4 separate regions of the Homo sapiens genome follow, and all the other regions are linked to region 4. The links come from fine-mapping of genetic effects on gene expression. A gene starts in region 4. Each other region holds a variant in brackets. All regions are shown on one strand. Distances are between the middles of the regions. Region 1 overlaps LOC105369468 (a long non-coding RNA gene). Region 2 overlaps CASP5 (caspase 5). Region 3 overlaps LOC105369468 (a long non-coding RNA gene). Region 4 holds the start of CASP5 (caspase 5).

Region 1 (5,920 bases), 200 kb before region 4:
GAAATAATTTGTATATAATAAAAAAACCATTGGCTACCTTAGAGATTCATATACAGGGCTATTTTATATGGATAGAAAAATATGGTAAGTCTTTAAATAAATAGCTTAAATTGGTGGTTATAATTTGCTTCAATTGTTTACAGTAATTGTATAAGAAAATAACTTGATTATTTTAAGAACTGTTTCAATAAAATCACACTTCATGTTTATCTACTGCTGCCCTCCATAGGAAAGGAGATCAGTGATGCCCTTTTTCCCTGCTCCCCTCCTTGTTTCATGCACAAGGAAGGCTCTGGAGCAAAGGGCTTTACAGCACTGTCTGGAGTTCTCCCATCTATTGATTGAGGTCAGTGGTACTGATGTGGTCATACTTCCTGAATGTAGACTCTCCCTTACCAGGAGGAACATACATAGAGCTGTACTGAAAAACACATGCTGAGAGTGGTGGAGGTCAAAATTAAGGTGAGGCCTCAGGAATGAATGGCCTTTCAACCCACTTTTGATGGCTCAAACCATGTACAACTTAGGCAAAAGGAGTTCTGCCAATGGTTTAGCCCAGCTCATTAAACACTTTCTTTGTGAACAGAGCTAATAGGTTGACAGGATGGCCCACAGCCCCCAGGAGCTGTAGCTGGCCTCCAGGCCCTTACTCACATTCATTCTCTCTCTCTTCCACCACAGATTGTGCCCCATGGATGGATTTAAATGTATCTTTGGAATGAGTGATTAGAAGAAGACAGAAACTGGGTAATTCCGAGTTTTCTGTCAAATACTATATTCCTAATATCATCCTATCTTCAGCATTTTACTTAGTTCATGTGAGTTTATTCCAGATAGAGTCTACTCTGGTCCACAAATTAAACAGTGTTTGTTTTTTTCTCAAAGGAAACTTTTGAAGGTTATCTATCAGCCTCTGTACTGGAGAGTTAGCCTCTTGAATCAAGTGAGCTAAAGTACACAAAATTGACCCTTCACTGCTTTTAGAACTGTCAGTTTTGCAGAACTCCTCACTTACGAGTCATTCTAAGTGACATTTGCTTCACCTTTCTTTGAAGCTCTTATCACATAGACGCTGGTGCTATCAGCTGAGCTATTATGGGGATAACACATTGAAGCTGCAATAATTTCTAGTTTCCATCTTCAAAAACAAAATACATTTGGTCAAGTATGTGTTAGCCTTTTTCTTTCACATACAGATTCTCAGTTTAAAACTCCTTTGTTTCATCTTAGTAGTCTCCCTTTACTCTCTACACATCCCCAGGCCCAATAGTTCACTACTCCTATAAATGGAGAGAGATTGTACCTTTTTTATGATATATTAAAAACACAAACTGTGTATTTGTGTGGATGTACAGTCAGAGTCTCTCAGTCTGAGAGAAATTCAAGTGTGATAGGCTTTGGAACTTTAGGAGGCTCTGCTGGCTTGAAGTATTTTGGGCTATTATAGACAGAAGCCTATTTTCCAAGGGCTACAATTAGTAGCCAATTACAATATCTGTAACAGTGAAAGATTTCACAATGCAATGCAATGCAAAGTAAAGTTGGACAAGTAACAACATTAAAAAGACATTGATGTGATCCATTGCAAACTTTGGACATGTCATTCTGTTTAGGTTCTCTTTTTCTGCTTAGTTAGACTTTGCATCCATTTCCCTCATTCTTAACTACTGAGCTTTTTTGCTCCATTCCTGCCTCCTGAATCTTCCCAGACTCTCCCTCCTGGCTACTTTTCAATTCAACAAACCCCACATTATACATAACACATTACATTCTGCTGAGTACTGTAAAGAACATTAATAAATTACAAAGCTGTTTTTGAAATATGCATAGTCTTGTAAGGGAGACAAGATTTAACCAATGAACCAATTCAAAAAGTGCCAAATGTAATAGAATCAAGAGGCAACGCTCATAGACTATCAATAAAATGGTCAATAAAGAATCAAGTTCATGTTATTGTTGGCTGACAATTTGCAAAATGCTTCTCAAAGTTACCGAACCCAGCAATATAAAGAGGGGAGAGAGCCTGACTGAGCCTATGACATTTCACAGACTTCATCTCCTGGTTCCTAATCAATATTATATTAAAGAAAAAACAAATCAGAATGATGGAACAGCCTAGCAAAAATTCAGACATGATAGTGTGTCAGAGTGTGCCAAGGAGGTGCATTTGAAGGATCTGGTTCTTGTGGGAAATGGCAGAAGATAAAGTCATATTGCCTTTTTAAAAAGCATTTTCTTTAGACCACTAGTCTAGAAACGTGGTATAGCATACCCCTCCTAGATATTTGCTTGCTCATTAGCATATTAAAATATCTGGAGCCTTAAATATATTCAGATGTTAACTTTCCTTCAACTCATCATTTTACAAATTTCCTTGACCACAAGCCATTAATGACCCTTATTATATAAACAATTTCTTATAGGCTATGCTTTAGGAAATGTGGGATGATGTATATCAAGTAGAATATAAGAAGTCTAGAATGGCAGCATAGAGTTGATTTTTTTAAATAGGGAAAGTTATTGAGTAAGAAACTTAGGTGATCCAGTTTACACATTAAGGACACCCTTCTGTGTGATGAACTAGAGAAAATAAAAATCTTGAAATCAAAGACCACTAAGGAGATAATTGCAAGATGTTTGTTTGTTTTTATAAATTTGAATAGGTTGATGGAATTTAAAATAAAAAAACAAAGGAACAATTCTTTGGGCAAGAGAGATGTGGGCAAAATAAATGGTGTCAACATCAAAATAATGAAAGAAGTAACAAAACAAGATCACTGAAAAGAAAGAAGCTGTTGGGGGGAGGGGGGCATGACAGGAGCTAAGCCAGTGGGAATACTATCTTGATATAGGCTGTAAAAATAAAGTTGGGATAAACGTGTTTAGACACAGATGGAGAACACTCAGCCCCAAGAATGCAGTGACGTCAAATAATGAGCCAGGTTTTTGTTTTTGTTTGTGTCTTTCTGTATGGCTCTTAGCCATCAGTCTTATTATTTAACAGGCATACATGTTATGATCCCCTAAGGAGAGAAGGTGATTACAATAACCTTGTATATTTAAGAAAAATTGAAAATGTGGGGTTTGATGTTTTTTATTTTGTTTTCACTATTTTATGGTATCAGAAATACCTGAGGTCCATGTTTCAAGTACCAATTAATGGACAGGGACCCAATAATCTGTCATTTTTTAAGCACGCTAAAGTGGAGAACAACTGCAGGATCTGCAAAGCTAACATACCTGAAAATTGCTACTCCTTGCAGCAGCTGTGAGAATGTGCCTGGCTGATGTCCCAGAGCAGGAGGTATCAGCCAGCAGCAATAGCCCACAACTGCTG[C/T]ATTCCAAAATTCAATTTGTCCTGCCTTGAATTGAAGACCGTGCCTAGGCTGCTTCTGGCCAGTACCTACTGCTGCAAGAATACTAAGGCAGACTCACTCTGGGGAAAGCAGGGGCCCTTTGAGTGCCAACCATTGGCTTTGTCAAACCTTTCTTGGAAGATCTGGCAGGCTGGGAAGATTTTGAAAACACCTGCCCAGGCTTTCTCTCTTTCTCCTTCAGTCATGGAGATGCAGTTCTTTTTGCACCCTGGTCTGATAGCTCACCCAGTCTTCCTGAATTCCTGACAATTTTGTCATCCAGACAATTTTCCTAATATGGTCCATGCATTTTTAATTCCTTCTTGTTGTCTGCTGCTTGGAAGACATACTAACACCCTTCTTTGCAGTTTGAATAAACTATGATGAACATAGTTTCTCTATTTGCTAATGACACTTGTTGTATATTCTCATAATACAATTAGATTGCATAGGTTCATTGATTCAGAATCTACACAATAATTTTTTAATAATAATATCACTTTATTGAGTGTTTATGATGGATCAGGTAGTGGGTAAGCCCTTTACATCTATTATTATAATTAGTTCTGTGCTGGTGAACAGCCTTTAAAAACAAAAAAAAAAATGTATTTTAGCCAATTTATGTGGTTGTAAACACTCCCACCACAGCCAATTTCAAGCTATTAACAGGATTAACAACAAGCTGGTGAAATGTTTGATAAGTTAGTAGCTGGCTCCTGAAGGTTTGTAGGAGCCTACCTCAACACACAAGACACACTGTAGTCCTTTTTATCAGTTTTGAGGTAGGGTTTAATCCTAGTTTTACTGTTGAAGACCCACAAAAAATATTACAGAAGTTAGGCAATTTGTCCAAATCACAGGCTTGAGATTTGCATCCAAATCTGAAGGACTATTAATTGAACTACTTCCTAGGTGTCTCAAAGACTCTCTGAATCCCAAATCATAGCTAATTTAAGCCAAATAAAAGGAGAGAGAAGGGCTTAGTGAAAAAAAACTCAGATATGTCTCATAGAGCTCAAGATCAGGCAGCTACACTTCAGAGACTTATGAAGCCACCTGGATTCTCCTCATTGCTTCCTGGCTCCTTCTGTTCCACTCAATTTATCTTTATGAGACTACCATCATGACCTGTTTCTGTGTTTCATGTGGCAGGTAGAAAGAGGCTCCTGAGCTTATGAGCTCATGTTTTACGTATAAAATAACTCAGAGAAAATTTCTTTCTTTCTACTCTTAAGTTTAGAAGTCCTAGGAAGGTATTCTTACTGGCCCAGTTTAGGTCAGATTTCCACCACGGTTCTATCAACTGCATTTTCCCTGTGGGTATGGTGAGAATTAAAAGAGGAAAGGTTGTAACCTGAACAGGTGCCCCAAATGGAGTCCACAGCATTGTTTTACATGACAAAAAATATTGTTACATTTGTAATATAGTAATGTGTGTATGTATGTATATGTATATATATATATACATATATTTAAATAGTACGTTATCTCTTTTTCAGTACAAGTACTTAGGCACAATAATCTCTCTGAGTTACTCATTTTTAATTTTTCACTCTTATATTACCCCTAGGTTTTATGAGTCTTATACATTTTTATTTCGTTAGTATATTATTTTTCTTAAGAGATGGGTTCTTACTCTCTTGTCCAGGCTGGAGGGCAGTGGTGTGATCATAGCTCACTGTGACCTTGAATTCCTGGGCTCAAGCGATCCTCCCACCTCAACCTCCCAAGTCCTAGTATTATGGTTGTGTGCCATCATGCCAGGCTAAATTTTGAGTCTTGATAAAGTCAAAATCACAATGATTTCTTTACTCCTGACTAAGCCAAGTATCGAGGGTAGATGGGCTCAGACTCTTTGAGTGGCTACCATAGATTTCAAATCCCCTTAAACATGCATATATGTTACACATGCATTTACTTAAAAGCTTATCTTTATACCAGCCGTCATTCGCATGTTACAAACCAATAACTTGCTACGTATCAAACAAAAACCCATTTTTCTTCCTTATTTACTGCCCAGGAATGGGAAAGATAGATAACTGATCTCCTCAGCCAGCCACATATATTTAATACTAAGTAAAATAAATGGTGTTTATTACACTGAGAATGGGGGAGGTTAATGTATATTTTAAAAGAGCATAATACAACTTTATAACAAAGATATGATATGATTTATCCACAGGAAGGATACAAATAAACAGAAACAAGCTGAACAGGTTCTTAAGCTTTAATATAATGGACAGCACCATTTAATAAAATATGTCAGGATTTTTAAGAATCAGAGAAAGTCGTTGTGGAGTTCAAATGCAAAACACAATCTTGTAAAAAGTCTTCTTTTTCAGAATATTTTTGGCTAAATATAAGAGACTAGCTCTCCCAGATATTTAAATAAATAATAAAGCTACAATAATAAAAGCAGCAGGCTATCAACCAGTAATAGGTTAATACCCAATGAAACAGAATAGATAATACAGAAATAGAATCATATAGAGATTGAGCATATGATAAAACTGGCACTTAACCTCTATGGGGAAAAGACAGATTATTCAATAAATCATTTCGTG
Region 2 (5,920 bases), 31 kb after region 4:
TGCACAGTCTGGTGGGAGGTTCTGCCAGGGAGCCCTTTTTACTTGGCTGTCTCATTACTGACATTCAGCCACAGTTATGGGACTGTAGAAAATACATGCTCAACTATAGGTACTTTATTCAGGAAAACCTGCCTTGAAATAATGAAATTGGAATAAAGAATGCACAGAGTTGGAGAGTGAATCATGTGGTTCTTATGCAGGAGAGGTGTTCCAGCACAGAATACAAGTGCAAATGCCCTGGGGCAGAAATATGCTGAACAGGTTTAAAAAGAACTACAATGAGATAGTGTGACCAAAAGAGAATGCAAGTGAGGGAACTGACAGAGACAAATTAGGAGAAACAGTGAGGAGCCTCATCACAATGTGCTTGAACATCACATGGTAAATCTTTAAAAAAATATTATCTGAGTAGATAGGAAACCCTTCCAGTGCTTTGGAAAAGAGAAGTGACATAATTTAACTTAGGTTTTACAAAGATATTCCTGAGTACTTTTCACTAAATAGACACAGAGGTCACAGATGGAAGTCGAGGGAAATGGCAAAAGCATATGGCAGAAGATGGAAGAAGAATCATAATGAAGGATGGGATGAAGGCAGTGAGGGGTAACCATCTTGACCTTCTGTCCTTTCTCTCTTCTGCAGGAAACCACAGGCAGCCCAGCCCTCCTCTGTCAACATCAAAGAGCACATTTACCAGTATAGCTTGCATAGTCAATATTTGGTATTTCAATAAAAGTAAAGACTGTATCTTTTTAGATTGTATGAACTGTATCTTTTTAGATTCTCTAATAGACAATATAATTTCAATGAAAATGGTGGACGAGTGAAAATGAAGTGGAAGAAACTAACTAGATTTTCGAGTTTTATGGCTCATGTAACATCTATACTTGGCTGATGAAGACGACTGGCTGTGACTTACCGCCAACAATAGAATGAAAGAAGATGGTGTTAAAAGTATAAGATACCACCTCATACCCATTAGAATGACTCCCATCAAAACATACAAACAAACACAAAATAACAGGTGTTTGCAGGGATGTAGAATAATCGGAACCCTGTGCTCTGTTGGTGACAATGTCAAATGGCACCACTGTGGAAAACAGTATGGAAGTTCCTCACAAAATTAAAGCTAGAATTATCATAGGATCCAGAAACTCCACCTTTGGGTACATCCCTAAAATAATTGAAAGCAGGGTCTCAAAGATACACTTATACACCCATATTCATGGCAACGTTGTTCATGATATCTAAAATGTGGAAGCAACGAAAGTATCCATGGACTGAAAAATGGATAAGTAAAATATTGTATATAGATATAATAAAATATAATTTAGCATAGAAAGGAGGGAAGTTCTGACATATGCTAAAATATAGAGGAACTTTGAGGACATTATGCCAGGTAAAATAAGCCATTCACACACACAAAAATACAATATGATCACACTTATATGAGGTACCTAGATTATCAGATTCACAGAGACAGAAAGTAGAATGGTGATTGCCAGGTGCTAGGGCAGGAGAAAATGAAGTGTCATTTAATGGTTATAAAGTTTCAGATTTACAAGATAGAAAGAATTCTGGAGGTAGATGGGTGATTGTTGTGCAAAATTATGAATGTATTTTAATACTATTTGGCTGTACACTTAAAATTGTTAAGCTTGTAATTTTGTTATGGCATTTTACTACGATAAAAATTGCAAAAATATAATGATATAATTGAAAGTGAGAAGGTATGAGGGCAACATTAATCAACTTACATAGAGAAAATTTAACTACTGAGCAACATTGATGAAAGAAGAAATTAGGATTAAATATATTATTTATTGTTCCACAATTAATCAATAAAAAGTATGAACATCATGACATCATCAAATATTAGGTAGAATAGACCAGATATGTGGCTATGTAAGTGAGCTGCATCTCATTTTTCATATCAGGTAGTCAATGGCATTGTTTATGTTCTATATTTCGGGAAACACAGAGGTATAATAGTCATTATTGAGAATTCCAAATGTTACTGCCAAACAAAACAAAACAAAAATAATTGAAGGAAATTACCTCTAGTATGTGGGACTAAAGGTGGGGAGAGTTGTACTGGGAAATATGATTTTTATTGTATTCTTTTCTGTACTATGGACTGTCTCATGAATGTATTACTTTGACAAAATATTTAAAATTATATTGAATTGACACTTTTAATAATTTATAGATTTCTAAAAATCAGGTAGTATTGAATTTTAATGTGTTGAATTTTTAAAGGGTTTGTCCTATGTTGTGAAGCAAAGATTAAACAAATGGAGCAAATTGTTGATAATATATGATACTGGTGCTATAAGGAAAAAAGGTATAGGTAAATATGTGTCTGCCAGTTATTTATTTATGGGTATCAAAACACCCAAAACCTCAGTAGTTTAACACAATAAGCATTTGCTATTGTTCACAAGGTTACCAGTTAGCTAGGTAGGTCTTGACTCTGCTGAGATTATCCATGTGTCTGAGATCACCTCTGCATGGGGTAGGCATCTTTACTGAAAGGCTGGGATCTCTCATATGTTTGGAAAGCACATGGCTGGTCTAGAATGACCTTGGCTGGCTGGGGCAGCTGGGCTCTTTTCCACATGATGTGTCTTATTAGCCAGCAATGTGGCTCAGGCTCGTCCTCATTTAGGTTCAGGTGTCCACGAGGAAGAAGAGCACCAGGCTTCATAAAGCCTGAGCTGGGAATTGCACGAGATCCTTCTACTGCATTATGTTGGCCAAAACCAAGTCATAAGACTGTTACAGGGTTGAAGCAAAGGTCAAGGATACTAGGAAGCCAATGATTAAGGAAATCAATAAAATCGGTAATATATTAAGTGTTTTACAAAAGCATAGAAAAAATTCAGAAAGATGCAAGCTAAACATATAATTGGGGTTACCTTGTGTCAAATTAAAGAGTGTGGATAATCCTTTTCCACTTTACAAACTTTTCTATTGTTTAATTTTAGTGGCAAACCTATATTTATTATTAAAAAATGATTTAAGTATCAGTCTTTTGTATATTTAACAAACAAAAAAACCCAAGTGAGTGTGATAGATAAACAATACCCCAATTGACACATGAACAGAATTGGAGAGAGAAGAAAAGAGATCACTTATG[C/T]GACTTTTTGAAATAGTGAAGGGAGTATCACTGGCAGCCTTAAGTCAGCCTCTGTCCCCTCACCTTCCAAATTTATACTTCCAGGGTTGTGCAGGCAACAGTGGAGTGAGAACTCCCAGCAATTTAGAGACTAGTGGTGGTACAATGAAAAATAGGAGTTTAATTTGAGTTATTAACGGTGTTAAAAATTGACAGGAAAACAGAACACAGAGACTTATGTTTGCATGTAAGTGTGCATGCTTTTATTATGATAAATTTGTTATATCAAAAAGAGAATTTTATAAGGGGGAGGAAAAATCACGCACCAAAATTGAGAGTGCAAAACGATAAGACAAATTTGGGAATTAAAAAAATTGTATGGTTGCAATGTAAAAGTTGAAGTATGGTTTGAAAAGATTAGATGTACTGATGAAATATATAGGAGTAATTATTTGTCCTGGGGACAGTGTAAATTATTTTAGAATATTATTAAACAGGGGCGTTATTTATAGTCAGATTTATAATTAAGAAAGATGGCTTGCAGAATGGACAGCAGGTTGAATGGCATACAGGAAGCCAAAATTGCCTGTGTTACAATTCTTTGCCAAGACTCTTAAAACTAAGGTTGGATAGAATTAGAATTCGTAACTAGGAATCAAAGTAAAAATGAATTGGGTTCAAATAATATGAGTTCTTTTTCTGTTAGTCTTTCATTTCCAAACGACTTCTCTTTCCCTCCATTCATATATGTAGCTATCTTCCATTGGAGATAATAATAATCAGTAATGTCACCCAAAGAGAAAAGAAGAATTTGACTTAAAAGGGGAAAATTAGACTTAAAATATATTAAAAAAATACTCTCTTATCTGCCTTGAAGGGCAGGCATTTTCTGAAATAAAGACAAGAATTTAGTGAAACTATTTTCCTTTACCCAGAAGGATCCACCCCGTTCCTTTTTTCCCTAACATCCAGTGAAAGAAGTAAATAGTGTTGACATATACTCACATTAGCAAGTATTTACACATATTTTGAAAGTTTTAATTTTAAAGACATGGTCCCTGTAATCTTTTGCCTTGTAATCTTTTGATCCATAATCCCACCATCATTTTTAGTTGGAGAATATGTATAACAACAGAGAAAAGTATGAGATGCTTTTTAACTTTTAATTTTGGTGTTATCACAAATAATGAATGCACTTATGAGATACATGGGATATATTGATACAGACATTCAATGTATAATAATCACATCATGAAAAAATAGAATATTTATACCCTCAAGCATTTATCCTTTGTGTTATAATCAAATTATCCCCTTTTAGTTATTTTTTAATGCGCAATTAAATTATTTTGACTATAGTCACCTGGGGTGCTGTCAATTACTAGGTCTTATTCATTCATTCTAATAAATTTTGTACCTATTAACCATTCCCACCTCCTCCTGCAACCCTCCACTACCCTTCCAGCTTCTGGTAATCAACTTTCTACTCTCTATACTCATAAGTTCAATTGTTTTTATTTTTAGATTCCACAAATACATGAAAACATGTGATGTTTGTCTTTCTGTGGCTGGCTTGTTTTGCTTAATGCAATGATCTCCCATTCCATCCATGTTGTTGCAAATGACAGAATCTCAGTCTTTCTTATGGCTGAATAGTACTGCATTGTGTATATGTACCATATTTTTTTTATCCATTCATCTGTTGATGGACACTTAGACTGCTTCCAAATCTTAGCTGATGTAAACAGTGCTGCAAAAAAATATGGGAGTGCAGATGTCTCTTCAATATACTGATTTTCTTTCTTCTGGCTACATACCCCGAAGTGGAATTGCTGGATTATATGGTAGCTTTATCTTTAGTTTTTTTTGAGAAGGCTCCAAACTCTTCTTCATAGTGGTTGTACTAATTTACATTCCCAACAGTGTATGAATGTTTCCTTTTCTCTGCATCCTCACCAGCACTGTTTATTGCCTATCATTTGGATAAAAGTCATTTTAACTGGGGTGAGATGATGTATCATTGGAGTTTTGATTTGCATTTCTCTGATCATCAATGGTGCTGAATATCTTTTCATAAGCCTGTTTGTTGTTTTTATGTTTTCTTTTGAGAAATATCTATCCAAATCTTCTACCCATTTTTATTTTTTTCTTTTACCCATTTTTAAATCAGATCATTAGATTTTTTTCTTATAGAGTTGTTTCAGCTCCTTATAAATTTTGGTTATTAATCCCTTTTCATTTGGAGAGTTTGCAAATATTTTCTCCCATGCTGTTGGTTGTCTTTCACCTTGATTATTTTCTTTATTCCACAGATGCTTTTTAACATGATATGATTCTATTTGTCCATTTTTGCTTTTGTTTCTTGTGCTTGTGGGGTATTACTCAAAAAATTTTTGCCCACACCAATGTTCTAATAGTTTCCCTAATGTTTTATTTTAGTAGTTTCATAATTTGAGGTCTTAGATTTAAATCTTTCATCAGTTTTGATTTTGTTTTTGTATGTGGCAAGAGATAAGGTTATAGTTTCATTCTTCTGCAAATGGATATCCTGTTTTCCCAGCACCATTTATTGAAAAGGCTATCTTTTCCCCAGGGTATATTCTTGACACCTTTGTCAAAAACGAGCTCACTGTAGGTGTGTAAATTTGTTTCTGTGTTCTCTATTTTGTTCCATTGGTCTATGCATCTGTTTTTATGCCAGTACCATGCTGTTTTAATTATTATAGTTCTGTAGTATAATTTGGAATTATGTAATGTGATTCCTCTAGTTTTGTTCCTTTTGCTCAGGATAGCTTTGGCTAT
Region 3 (5,920 bases), 160 kb before region 4:
ACCCATGCATCATTCATAAATGGTCTTTTACATTTAACGTAGCACAATAGGTTTTCAACAATTTTCCATTTTGAATTGGTATATATCAAGTGGGTTCAAAGATGATGCTGCAATGTCCACATTTTAAATTATAGAAGCCCTCTCAACCTCTAGTCTCTTTCATTGTGTGGTATTTTATTTAATTCTGGTGTGGTGGTGGTGGTGGTAGTGTGTGTGTGTGTGTGTGTGTGTGTTAGGGAAAGGAACCTTCAAAAATAGGAACTGCTTCAGATGGATATGGGCAGAAAAAAATCATTAGTATATAGCAGTTTCCATATTCTCTTGTTTTTTTTTTACTTCGTAACTGTCACTAAAGAAGGAATATACATACTGTTAGTTTCCTACTGCTCTCTTAACAAATAGCAATAAACTTGATAGCTTAAAACAACAGAAATTTATTATATTACAGTTCTCAAGGCCAGAAGTCCAAAATCAAGGTGTCAGCAAAGTCATGCTCCCTTTGAAGGCTGTAGGGTAGAATCCTTCCTTACCTCTTCCACATTCTGATGGCTTCAGCCTTTTCAACTTGCGCCTGTGTAACTTCAATCATTGTACCCTTCTTCACATGGGATTCTTCTCTTCTGCTTCATATCTTCTCCTCCTCTGAATTATTCCATCTCAAAATCTTTAGCTTAATTATATCTGCAAAGAAGATTTTTTCTAAACAAGGTCACATTTACATTTTTCAGGGATTAGAATATGAACATACCTTTTGAGGAGGGCCATCATTCAATCCGCTGCTAATCAGGCCAAAAGCACAAGCATATAGCTAGAGGAAAATCTTATCTACTTCTCTGCATCTGGCAACCAAGTTCCTGATTCGTTTCCTTACATGGATAATTCCAATTAGATAAGAAAATCTCAATTAAAAAATATAGTCGACTGCTGCTTACCTTCTTTTTTTCTGAGGCACACAGTGTCTTGATCCTTCTACTTTCTAAATACATCTCTTTGTATCTTTCATGGCTCTCTTTTTGCTTCATTCTTTCCATTTATTTTTCTCATTTTTTCTATCTTTGGTGTATAGACCTTGACTTTACTGTAGCTAGAAGGAAAAGGAAAAATGTTTCGGTTGCATGTATATTATCCACTGCTTCAAATCCAAATCACACTGTAACCAGTTTTTTTAAGCAGGGATAGGGGTTGAGAATGTGCTGTTATGTATGTGCACAGTGAGGCCAAGTAAAAAAATTGAGACTACTAGAGAAATAAATTGACAGACAATAAAATAAGTAAAATGATTTACAACTTATTTGAAAAATATGTGATGAGCTAAAAGGACAGATTTGTGTCAGAGAGAAATTATGTGAATCCTAGAACTGGAGAATAGGGAGAAATGATTGCAAGGAGAATAAAATCAGGATAAATCACTTGACAATACCCTTCCAAAATTATCTGAAGAATTGAGAACTTCACTAATTAATAAGTTTCTACCTTAACTGCTAAATTTATATGTAAATATTTTTCCATTTTCACAAGCATTTATTGAGTGCCTACTGTGCACTAGATACTTTTTAGTGTATTGATTCTGGTATAAATTCAGAAATGCTATTGTGTTGGATCCTAGGTATGCGTGTGGTAACCAAAGTCTGCAAACTCTGTTCCCTGGTTTACACAATAGAGAAAATATAGCATATGATAGAAAAACAAATGTAAACAAGTAAAACAAATAGGCAAACAAGGAATTTTCAACTGAGTTTTGTAAAAGTCAAATTATACTCAATGGACACTATATTTGAATGGTTTAAGATGTTTGGAAATTAGTTAAATGTCAGAACAGTTTTTGTGCACAGGGTGATTTTAATAAAGATTAGAAAACTGTAATAATGCTGCTGAGGATCAATAAATAGACCTTAATATTAGAAAATAATATGGTTGTATTCTCATACTGAAGTATGGAAGAAGAATGTTATGATTAGTATAGACATTTTTTCTTGCCATGGATGTTATGTAAAAACAATTTTTAGAATTTATTGAAGCTATAACAATAGAAAGTATTTCTAAAAAGTTCTTATTCACATTCTAAATTTTCATTAGAGTCATAGGAAGCTTCAGCATAAACCTTAAGATTTTACATTTCAGCTCAAGTAATATGCACATAAAATTTGACATTTTCCAAAGAAGAGGAAAATTTCAGATCAAACGTTGATACATACTTTTTTTCATCATTGCTTTTCTCCATTCCTTAAATTCTTATTCTGGTTTAACGTCATGACAATCTCTCATTTCACTGACATTTCATAAAAAGAACACAAGGATTTTCTAATAAAGGCTTTAGAGATCTCTAATTCTTCTTTGGAAATTGGGCACTTACTTTCTGTGCATTTAAATCACTTCTAAGATAATTATCTCTCCTAGTCTCTACAAACATAAATATAACTGTTCTGCTTTCTAAGTCATGGTTTTCTTTAAGTATACTTGCTATATCTTCACTTTCTGTGCATGAATATCAGATTAGGTCTCATCAAAAGCGATCTTTGTTTGAAAAGTAATTTCAAAGCCAACTAGCATCATAACAACACATTTTAGCTTGCACCTTTCCGTCCTGCTCAGAAAACACAAGGTGATGTTTGTCACTTATATTTAGAGTCAAGTGATCTCCAAGAAGCATACTGGATAAGTTCACATAATGCCAGGTTCCTGACAAGAGTTTCTTGTTGGTTGGCTTCAGTAGCTCT[T/C]GCTCAAGAATTGCAGAAGTACATGTTTCTGTAACACATACTTCCTCAATAACCCTATTAGGTAATCTTAATATCATTTCCCTGTACTCTGGGAGGCTGTGTTTTTGCTAAAAAATCCCTTTGCTTTTTAACTTGAAAAAATAATCAGAATTTATTGACTCTGTGAATATCTTTGAATAGACCACCAAATGATAATAAATCAATAAACAGAAGCACAATCTGTATTTTTGGAAACATGTTTATATCTTAAAATAGGCTAAAAATATTGTAATATTTTAAAAATTTATATATGGCTCATCAGAAGCTCATTATTGCTCATTGTCTGCTAGAGAATATACTTCTTTAGTTCTTTGTAGGATTCAGAGCTATTTCTGGATCTCAGTTATAAGGCACCGGCTGAATCATTCACATTGTCTCTGAAACTTGGGTTGGCTCAAGGCCAAGTTGTTCAGAAGACTTTCTGCTAATCGTATTTTAGTCTTGTCTTTGTAAAAGGCTATGAATTATCTTAATAGAATATCTGTTAAGCAATAGTTTAGTGAGACCTTAGCTTTCACTTTAATAACCCATTGAAAGGAAATATAAGTGTAAAAAAGCAGTCTTTATGAGTGGTTTAGATCATAGACTCTGGACTCAGACAATCCTGATTTCTTTTTTTTTTTTTTTTTTTTTTTTTTGAGACGGAGTCTCGCTCTGTCGCCCAGGCTGGAGTGCAGTGGCGGGATCTCGGCTCACTGCAAGCTCCGCCTCCCGGGTTCACGCCATTCTCCTGCTTCAGCCTCCGGAGTAGCTGGGACTACAGGCGCCCGCCACTACGCCCGGCTCATTTTTTGTATTTTTAGTAGAGACGGGGTTTCACCGTTTTAGCCGGGATGGTCTCGATCTCCTGACCTCGTGATCCGCCCGCCTCGGCCTCCCAAAGTGCTGGGATTACAGGCGTGAGCCACCGCGCCCGGCCGACAATCCTGATTTCTAATTCTCACTCTAGCAATTGGTGGTTATTCAACTTTAATAAACCTGCACAACCTTGCTCACAGATTAATTTTTCCATTTCTACAATGAAGACATGATATCTCATACTCTCACAGTATTATTTTGGCCATGAAACAAGCTCATACTAAAATGCTTAACACATCGTACACATAAATATTAACTAATATTAAAATCTAGTTTATTCAAGAAGAATATTTTGAGAGGAGTTTGCTTTAGTCCTTGACATGACTTTCTGTACACTTCCAGGCAATCAGTAATAATAGATAGATAAATGAAGAAACTAAAGCACAATTATTCAAAAGAGATAAACACAGAACTCCTCTTTGATTAGAAGGATCTTGCCCGCACCTAGAGTAGAAACTTACTTCTTCAGAATAGTTTGTCACAACTATTATCTTGTATTTTTATCATAGATCTTATTTATTTGACTTTTAAAACAAGCATACTTTTAAAATATGTTAGAAGGGGAACAAAACTAGCAGAGCTGGGTGATATGAAAGTGACCTTAAGAGCTAATTGTTTAAAATTTTGCAAGAAAATACATATTATTTTGCAAATATTCCCTGGAATGTGCACTTGACCTATCTTTTCTTCAAACGAAGTTATTCTGGACAGACTGCTAGCATATGATAAATGTGTACTATGAGTAAGTTACTATTGTAGGACTAGCTGAACAAAGACAGAGGACTTTTTTAAAAAAGCAATCAGCTGTTTCTGGGATGTTTCACGGTCCCAAACTGGAAACATCAATTAATATGTTAAAGAGCTAATCTTTATTTCTACTTCTACATAAGTACAGGAGCAATATATCTCTGGAAGTATATAAACCATTTCTCAATAATACATAATTTTATTTTGTTCATATATTTGTGTCCTTCACACTTTGTGAAATTTACCAGCGAATGCATTATCATTCATTTTAATAAGTTTATTCCGCAATTTCAGGGGAACACAGGGCAGCTCTAGTTCTCAATACATAAAAGGAAAGCAAGTGGCCCGCTGGCTGAAAGGTAGCTATGTAAATATTAGCAAGCAGAGTTTAAATGCTTGGCATTTATCCAATTGACCAGAGGATTCTATATCTACACCATTAGAATAATCTTTAGAAGTCATAAGAGGAATCCCCCAAAGTGTCATATCCCTTCCTTTAAAAATACCATGCATGTCACTGAGTGTACCATATGGTATTTATATCACTTTTTAGTTTTATTAGTTTAATCTGAACAGAAAAATATTCTTATGTATATGGGTGCAGCAAATGGTTGAAATGATAGAACTGTGTCTAAGGCAAAGTTATTTTAAAAAAAACATACTTGTAAGCCTGTGCAACCAGATAGAACATTTTATGGCTAAAAGCTTAAAAATATATTTCAGATAGAGAGATCAGTAGAGAGACAAAATATTGATCAGATATCCAGATTATACTAGAAAATTTTATTTATATGCAGAGCTAATTTCCATTCCGTTACAATTAATATTGTTTTAGACATGTATGAAAATAATATATTAATAAATATTTATTAACGTATGCTGGGGAATGAGATAAAAAAATGAATCTGTTCTATAACAATATGCATCTCCAGTTCTAGAAAAGGTTAAGACAAAATTTAAGGCATTGAAAAGAATTAGCTCTTTATCTTCTTTTAATTTTTAGACTGGGTCCAGAATCAAAAATATATTTATGGAACTATCAGGTTGATTTCAAAATTTAATTGGTCTCTAAGATGTTGATCCAATATCTTTTTCACTTTTCACCTAAAAATAATTATTTATTATGTTATATATGTTTAATAGTATAAATCTTTTATTCATATCAGCACCATGGTTAGGCCAGAGAGTTCCCTAGAGGCAGAACGGCTTCAGTTCCCAGACCTCGGCATATAGACTTTTCTTTTGTTCTTAATTTTAGTCCAGGGTAATGGTTGACAACCTTGAAATTCAGAAGGATCACTAGAGAGATACATGCTACACTATGCTATTTAACTTTATAGACAATTTACAGGATATTCAAGGATAATTGTGATTAGTTGTCTGCTTTTTGCCTTTTCAAGAAAAACTTAGGTTCTAATCTCTATAGAACTGTGATTCCTCTCTAATTGTACCATGACATAACATGTTTATTGTACCTATTCACAGTAAATCCTAATTGCAACATTTCAATCCACTTTATTCACATAACTGAAAGCAAGGAACAAGTTTTTTTTTTTTTT
Region 4 (5,504 bases):
TTTTGGATGTTTCTCTCCTTCACCTCAGCAGGGTATATTTAAACATAGCATGTGGTCTTTCCTTTTAAAATTGTGTATGTTCCCATTGGTGGTATAACTTTATAACTTGCATGTCTTTAACAAAATTCTTTCCTATGTTTTTTTTTTTAATTATTTCTTTTTCTCATAGGAAGTGAAGAGATCCTTCTGTAAAGGTTTTTGGAATTATGTCTGCTGAATAATAAACTTTTTTGAAATAATAAATCTGGTAGAAAAATGAAAACTTGTCCTCATTTTTCTCCCACACTGAAGAAACAGGGACTGGAACTTAGAGTGACTAAGGAATTTAGAGTGTTTGACTTAATCTGTCAGACCCAAACTGGCTATTGGCACCTTTCTTTCCCAGAACTTAAAGTAAAATAAAATATAAAAATTTAAAAAAGAAAATCAGACTTACAAACATAGCAATGTTATTAATTACTTTCTTGAACAAAAATTTATTTTGTGCCATTTTTAAAAAAAGAAAAATCGTTTGCTGGGCTTTCTGCTTTGGGGATGTGATATAAGTTACAGCAGGTATCTGACTTCAAATAATTTAGAGCTCAGCAGGAGAGACGGGGGAAGACAGCTAGTTATGACAGCGACAGTGTAGTGTGATAAAGAACTTTTCCCAAATCCCACAGTTTGCTACTGACAAATCCATGAACTTGCATGTTTCTACCCTTTGCAAAAGTATTTAAGACAAAGTAAGTTTTGAATCAACCCTCAGTAGTTCACAGACTTCTTGAAAAGATAAGACAGCCATCCAAAATGAAGCGCTTGGCAGATGGTGCCTGACACCCTGAAGAAACTCTAGGATGCATGGTGTGCACAGTGAAGTCCTGGCATGGTGCAGAGAAAACGAGTTTGGGGTGAAATCATGCACTCAGGGATGTTAAGATTTAGGGAGGATTCGAAGAACTACCCCTTACTTGCAAATATGTTTTTTTCTAATATTTAACAGATTAAATGAGAGTTAATTTCTGACTTCTTAAACACCTTCATAGTTGAACACATTACAGTCTCTCTCTCTCTCTCTTTTTTTTTTTTTTTACCTTTTATTAACTGTTTCTCTGGGCATATCTCTTCTGTGTTATCATGCATACTCTACTACAACCTGAGACTACATCTGTGATCAGTCTTTGCTCAGAGAATATCAAAAAGGAGAAGTGAATTGCCACCCTAAGTAAAAATTAACTGTTAAAGCAGTTTTAGTCAGTTGAAGAACAGCATTCCAGGAAGTAGATAAGAGGATTCCTTCAGAACTGTCTCCAATCAAAGCGTAAGATGACAGGGAGATGGGGAGGAGAAGACTCCATCATGATTCCTCAGCACAGTTTAAACAAGAAATACATTTATTGAATAAACAATCCTTTCCTTGTTTCTTTTTGCTGTTGTTGTTGACTTTGTTGAGTATCAGTTGGTTATAGGTGTGTGGCTTTATTTTGGGGTTCTCTATTCTGTTCCATTGGGCTTTGTGTCTGTTTTTTTTGTACGAATACCTTGCTGTTGTGGTTACTGTAGACTTCTAGCATAGCTTGAAGTCCAGTAATGTGATGCATCCATCTTTTTGAAAAGCAGTTTGGAGATTTACCAAATAACTAAAAAAAGAACTATCATTTGTCCAAGCATCCCATTACTGACTGAATCCTCAAAGGAAAATGTACTGTTCTATCAAAAAGACATGTGCTTTCAAATGTTTGTCGCAGCACTATTCACTGTAGCCAAAATAATAGAATCAACCCAGGTGTCCATCAATGGTGGATTGGATTTAAAAAAATGTGGTACACTGCTACTATGGAATGTTACACAGCCATAAAAATGAAACCCTGCCCTTTGCAGCAACATGGATGCAACTGGAGGCCATTATTCTAAGCAAATTAATGCAGAAACAGAAAACCAAATATCACATAATCTCACTTGTAAGTTCTAGCTAAATATTGTGTACACATGGACATAAAGACGGGAATAACAGACACAGGGAAATACCAGAGGGAGGAATGAAGGAAGAAGGCAAGAGCCGAAAAACTATGTACTGGGTGCTATTCTCACTACCTAGGTAATAGGTTAAATTGTACTACAAACCTCTGCATCACCTAATATACTCTTGTAACAAACCTGCATATGTACCCCTGAAACTCAAATAAAAATTGAAATGAAAAATAAAGAAACCCAAGATATACAAAATATTTGGTTAATTCTTATGGGAAGATGCAAGGAAACTAGTTAGATTTTACTCATTCAGGACATGTGTTTTTAGACGAGCAGAGGTAGAAAAACTGACAGATCAGAAGAGAGGGATGAATAAAAGAAGATGTGGGGCTATGGAGAGAGAAAAGGAAAAAGAAAACCAGGCTGAGGTTTCAACCCACAAAACAATGTTTTGTCATTTGCATTTTTTTTCCCCAGGGAAGAATCTAGAGTTCAAGAATAGAAAGCCAATTTGCTTACTACAGGGCACTTCCCAATGATGAAACTATAGGTTCCCAGAAGCAACTTCCCATAATCTGTAATCACTTGTCCCCACTCCCTGCAATAAGGAAGTACCTAGTGTATTTTATCTCTGAGTCTGAGGCACTTTCCAGTGCTGTACAAAGAGACAGAGGCTGTTAGCTATGGCTGGTGAGTCTGGGCCCTTTTCTGACTAGCAGCTGGGTACTCAGGTCTTAGAAAAATCTTGATTTATTGCTATGTGACAGGCAGAAATACCAAAAGGGAAATCAACCAATAGTGTGCATGCTGAATCTTTCTCTTATTGGTGGTATGTAGTTTGAATCCTGAGACTGTGTAGAGACACTGAAGGAGAGTATGTTCTCTAGATGTTTTCAAGCCAGAAAAAGGTTAATTCCTTTCTTTCAGCTTCTGGTAATCAAAGAGAGAGTAAGGAAAGACAGAGTAAGTTATTTGTGTGAGAAAACTCCGGAAATTTCTAAATGCACTCTGAAATCTTCTCTGCTTCCTCTTGATTCCAAATTAATCCTCCAGACTATGAACCTTCTCCCCACAATCAGATCTGAGAGCCTCTGTGTTCTCAACGTGTTGTCATCTCTTATCTTGAATTATCTTATTGGTCTGTTTAAAGTGATTGCATTTTTCCACCTTTCTATGTAGTCCTGGTACTAACTCTTATAATGTAATATATCTTAGGTTGCTATCATAGACTTTTAACTGTCTTCCCACTCCCAAAAACTTAACCCTTCAGTCCATACTGCACACTACTTTCAGGCCAACTGTCTTATACACAGAAGCTAAAAAAGCCTATGAGTTGGAGTCCTGGGCTACTTAAGCAGCTCGTATTCCAGCAGGTCATATTGCGTCTTTGGTTTCATTCTCCTCACTGGAAAAAGGAAGAAACTGGAATAGATCAGTGCTTTCTAAACCTTATAACATATATGAATAATCTGCAGTCTTTTTTTTTCTTTAATTTATTTATTTATTATTATTATACTTTAAGTTTTAGGGTACATGTGCACAATGTGCAGGTTAGTTACATATGTATACATGTGACATGCTGGTGGGCTGCACCCACTAACTCGTCATCTAGCATTAGGTATACCTCCCAATGCTATCCCTCCCCCCTCCCCCCACCCCACAACAGGCTCCAGAGTGTGATGTTCCCCTTCCTGTGTCCATGTGTTCTCATTGTTCAGTTCCCACCTATGAGTGAGAATATGCGGTGTTTGGTTTTTTGTTCTTGTGATAGTTTACTGAGAATGATGATTTCCAATTTCATCCATGTCCCTACAAAGGACATGAACTCATCATTTTTTATGGCTGCATAATATTCCATGGTGTATATGTGCCACATTTTCTTAATCCAGTCTATCATTGTTGGACATTTGGGTTGGTTCCAAGTCTTTGCTATTGTGAATAATGCCACAATAAACATACGTGTGCATGTGTCTTTATAGCAGCATGATTTATAGTCCTTTGGGTATATACCCAGTAAAGGGATGGCTGGGTCAAATGGTATTTCTAGTTCTAGATCCCTGTGGAATCGCCACACTGACTTCCACAATGGTTGAACTAGTTTACAGTCCCACCAACAGTGTAAAAGTGTTCCTATTTTTCCACATCCTCTCCAGCACCTGTTGTTTCCTGACTTTTTAATGATTGCCATTCTAACTCGTGTGAGATGGTATCTCATTGTGGTTTTGATTTGCATTTCTCTGATGGCCAGTGATGGTGAGCACTTTTTCATGTGTTTTTTGGCTGCATAAATGTCTTCTTTTGAGAAGTGTCTGTTCATGTCCTTCGCCCACTTTTTGATGGGGTTGTTTGTTTTTTTCTTGTAAATTTGTTTGAGTTCATTGTAGATTCTGGATATTAGCCCTTTGTCAGACGAGTAGGTTGCGAAAATTTTCTCCCATTTTGTAGGTTGCCTGTTCACTCTGACGGTAGTTTCTTTTGCTGTGTAGAAGCTCTTTAGTTTAATTAGATCCCATTTGTCAATTTTGGCTTCTGTTGCCATTGCTTTTGGTGTTTTAGACATGAAGTCCTTGCCCATGCCTATGTCCTGAATGGTAATGTCTAGGTTTTCTTCTAGGGTTTTTATGGTTTTAGGTCTAACTTTTAAGTCTTTAATCCATCTTGAATTAATTTTTGTATAAGGTGTAAGGAAGGGATCCAGTTTCAGCTTTCTACATATGGCTAGCCAGTTTTCCCAGCACCATTTATTAAATAGGGAATCCTTTCCGCATTGCTTGTTTGTCTCAGGTTTGTCAAAGATCAGATAGTTGTAGATATGCGGCATTATTTCTGAGGGCTCTGTTCTGTTCCATTGATCTATATCTCTGTGTTGGTACCAGTACCATGCTGTTTTGGTTACTGTAGCTTTGTAGTATAGTTTGAAGTCAGGTAGTGTGATGCCTCCAGCTTTGTTCTTTTGGCTCAGGATTGACGTGGCAATGCGGGCTCTTTTTTGGTTCCATATGAACTGTAAAGTAGTTTTTTCCAATTCTGTGAAGAAAGTCATTGGTAGCTTGATGGCGATGGCATTGAATCTGTAAATTATCTTGGGCAGTATGGCCATTTTTCACGATATTGATTCTTCCTACCCATGAGCATGGAATGTTCTTCCATTTGTTTGTACCCTCTTTTATTTCCTTGAGCAGTGGTTTGTAGTTCTCCTTGAAGAGGTCCTTCACATCCCTTGTAAGTTGGATTCCTAGGTATTTTATTCTCTTTGAAGCAATTGTGAATGGGAGTTCACTCATGATTTGGCTCTCTGTTTGTCTGTTGTTGGTGTATAAGAATGCTTGTGATTTTTGTACATTGATTTTGTATCCTGAGACTTTGCTGAAGTTGCTTATCAGCTTAAGGAGATTTTGGGCTGAGACAATGGGGTTTTCTAGATATACAATCATGTCGTCTGCAAACAGGGACAATTTGACTTCCACTTTTCCTAATTGAATACCCTTTATTTTCTTCTCCTGCCTGATCGCCCTGGCCAGAACTTCCAACACTATGTTGAATAGGAGTGGTGA

The links. PIP is the estimated chance that this variant, and not a neighbour inherited with it, causes the effect.
Region 1: its variant is fine-mapped to the expression of CASP5 in whole blood (TOPMed, PIP above 0.99).
Region 2: its variant is fine-mapped to the expression of CASP5 in whole blood (TOPMed, PIP above 0.99).
Region 3: its variant is fine-mapped to the expression of CASP5 in whole blood (TOPMed, PIP 0.94).

What each region holds. Positions count from the first base shown.
Region 1 is chr11:105,222,048-105,227,967 of GRCh38, reverse strand. The region is part of intron 4 of LOC105369468 (a long non-coding RNA gene); the gene reads left to right. Among named protein-coding and RNA genes, the nearest start is that of CARD18, 85 kb to the right of the region's middle. The variant C/T (reference allele first, on the strand shown) is at 3,338.
Region 2 is chr11:104,989,070-104,994,989 of GRCh38, reverse strand. CASP5 (caspase 5) reads left to right here. Exons shown (of 10, transcript NM_004347.5): 10 at 643-747. Among named protein-coding and RNA genes, the nearest start is that of CASP4, 23 kb to the right of the region's middle. The variant C/T (reference allele first, on the strand shown) is at 3,140.
Region 3 is chr11:105,178,534-105,184,453 of GRCh38, reverse strand. The region is part of intron 4 of LOC105369468 (a long non-coding RNA gene); the gene reads left to right. LOC105369469 (a long non-coding RNA gene) reads right to left here. Exons shown (of 5, transcript XR_007062872.1): 3 at 933-1,084; 4 at 531-681. Among named protein-coding and RNA genes, the nearest start is that of CARD18, 42 kb to the right of the region's middle. The variant T/C (reference allele first, on the strand shown) is at 2,718.
Region 4 is chr11:105,020,266-105,025,769 of GRCh38, reverse strand. It overlaps CASP5 (caspase 5), which reads left to right and starts at 2,602. Exons shown (of 10, transcript NM_004347.5): 1 at 2,602-2,640. The coding sequence starts at 2,634. All of the region lies in intron 1 of LOC124902742 (a long non-coding RNA gene), which reads right to left. CASP1 (caspase 1) reads left to right here. Exons shown (of 9, transcript NM_001257118.3): 9 at 1-262.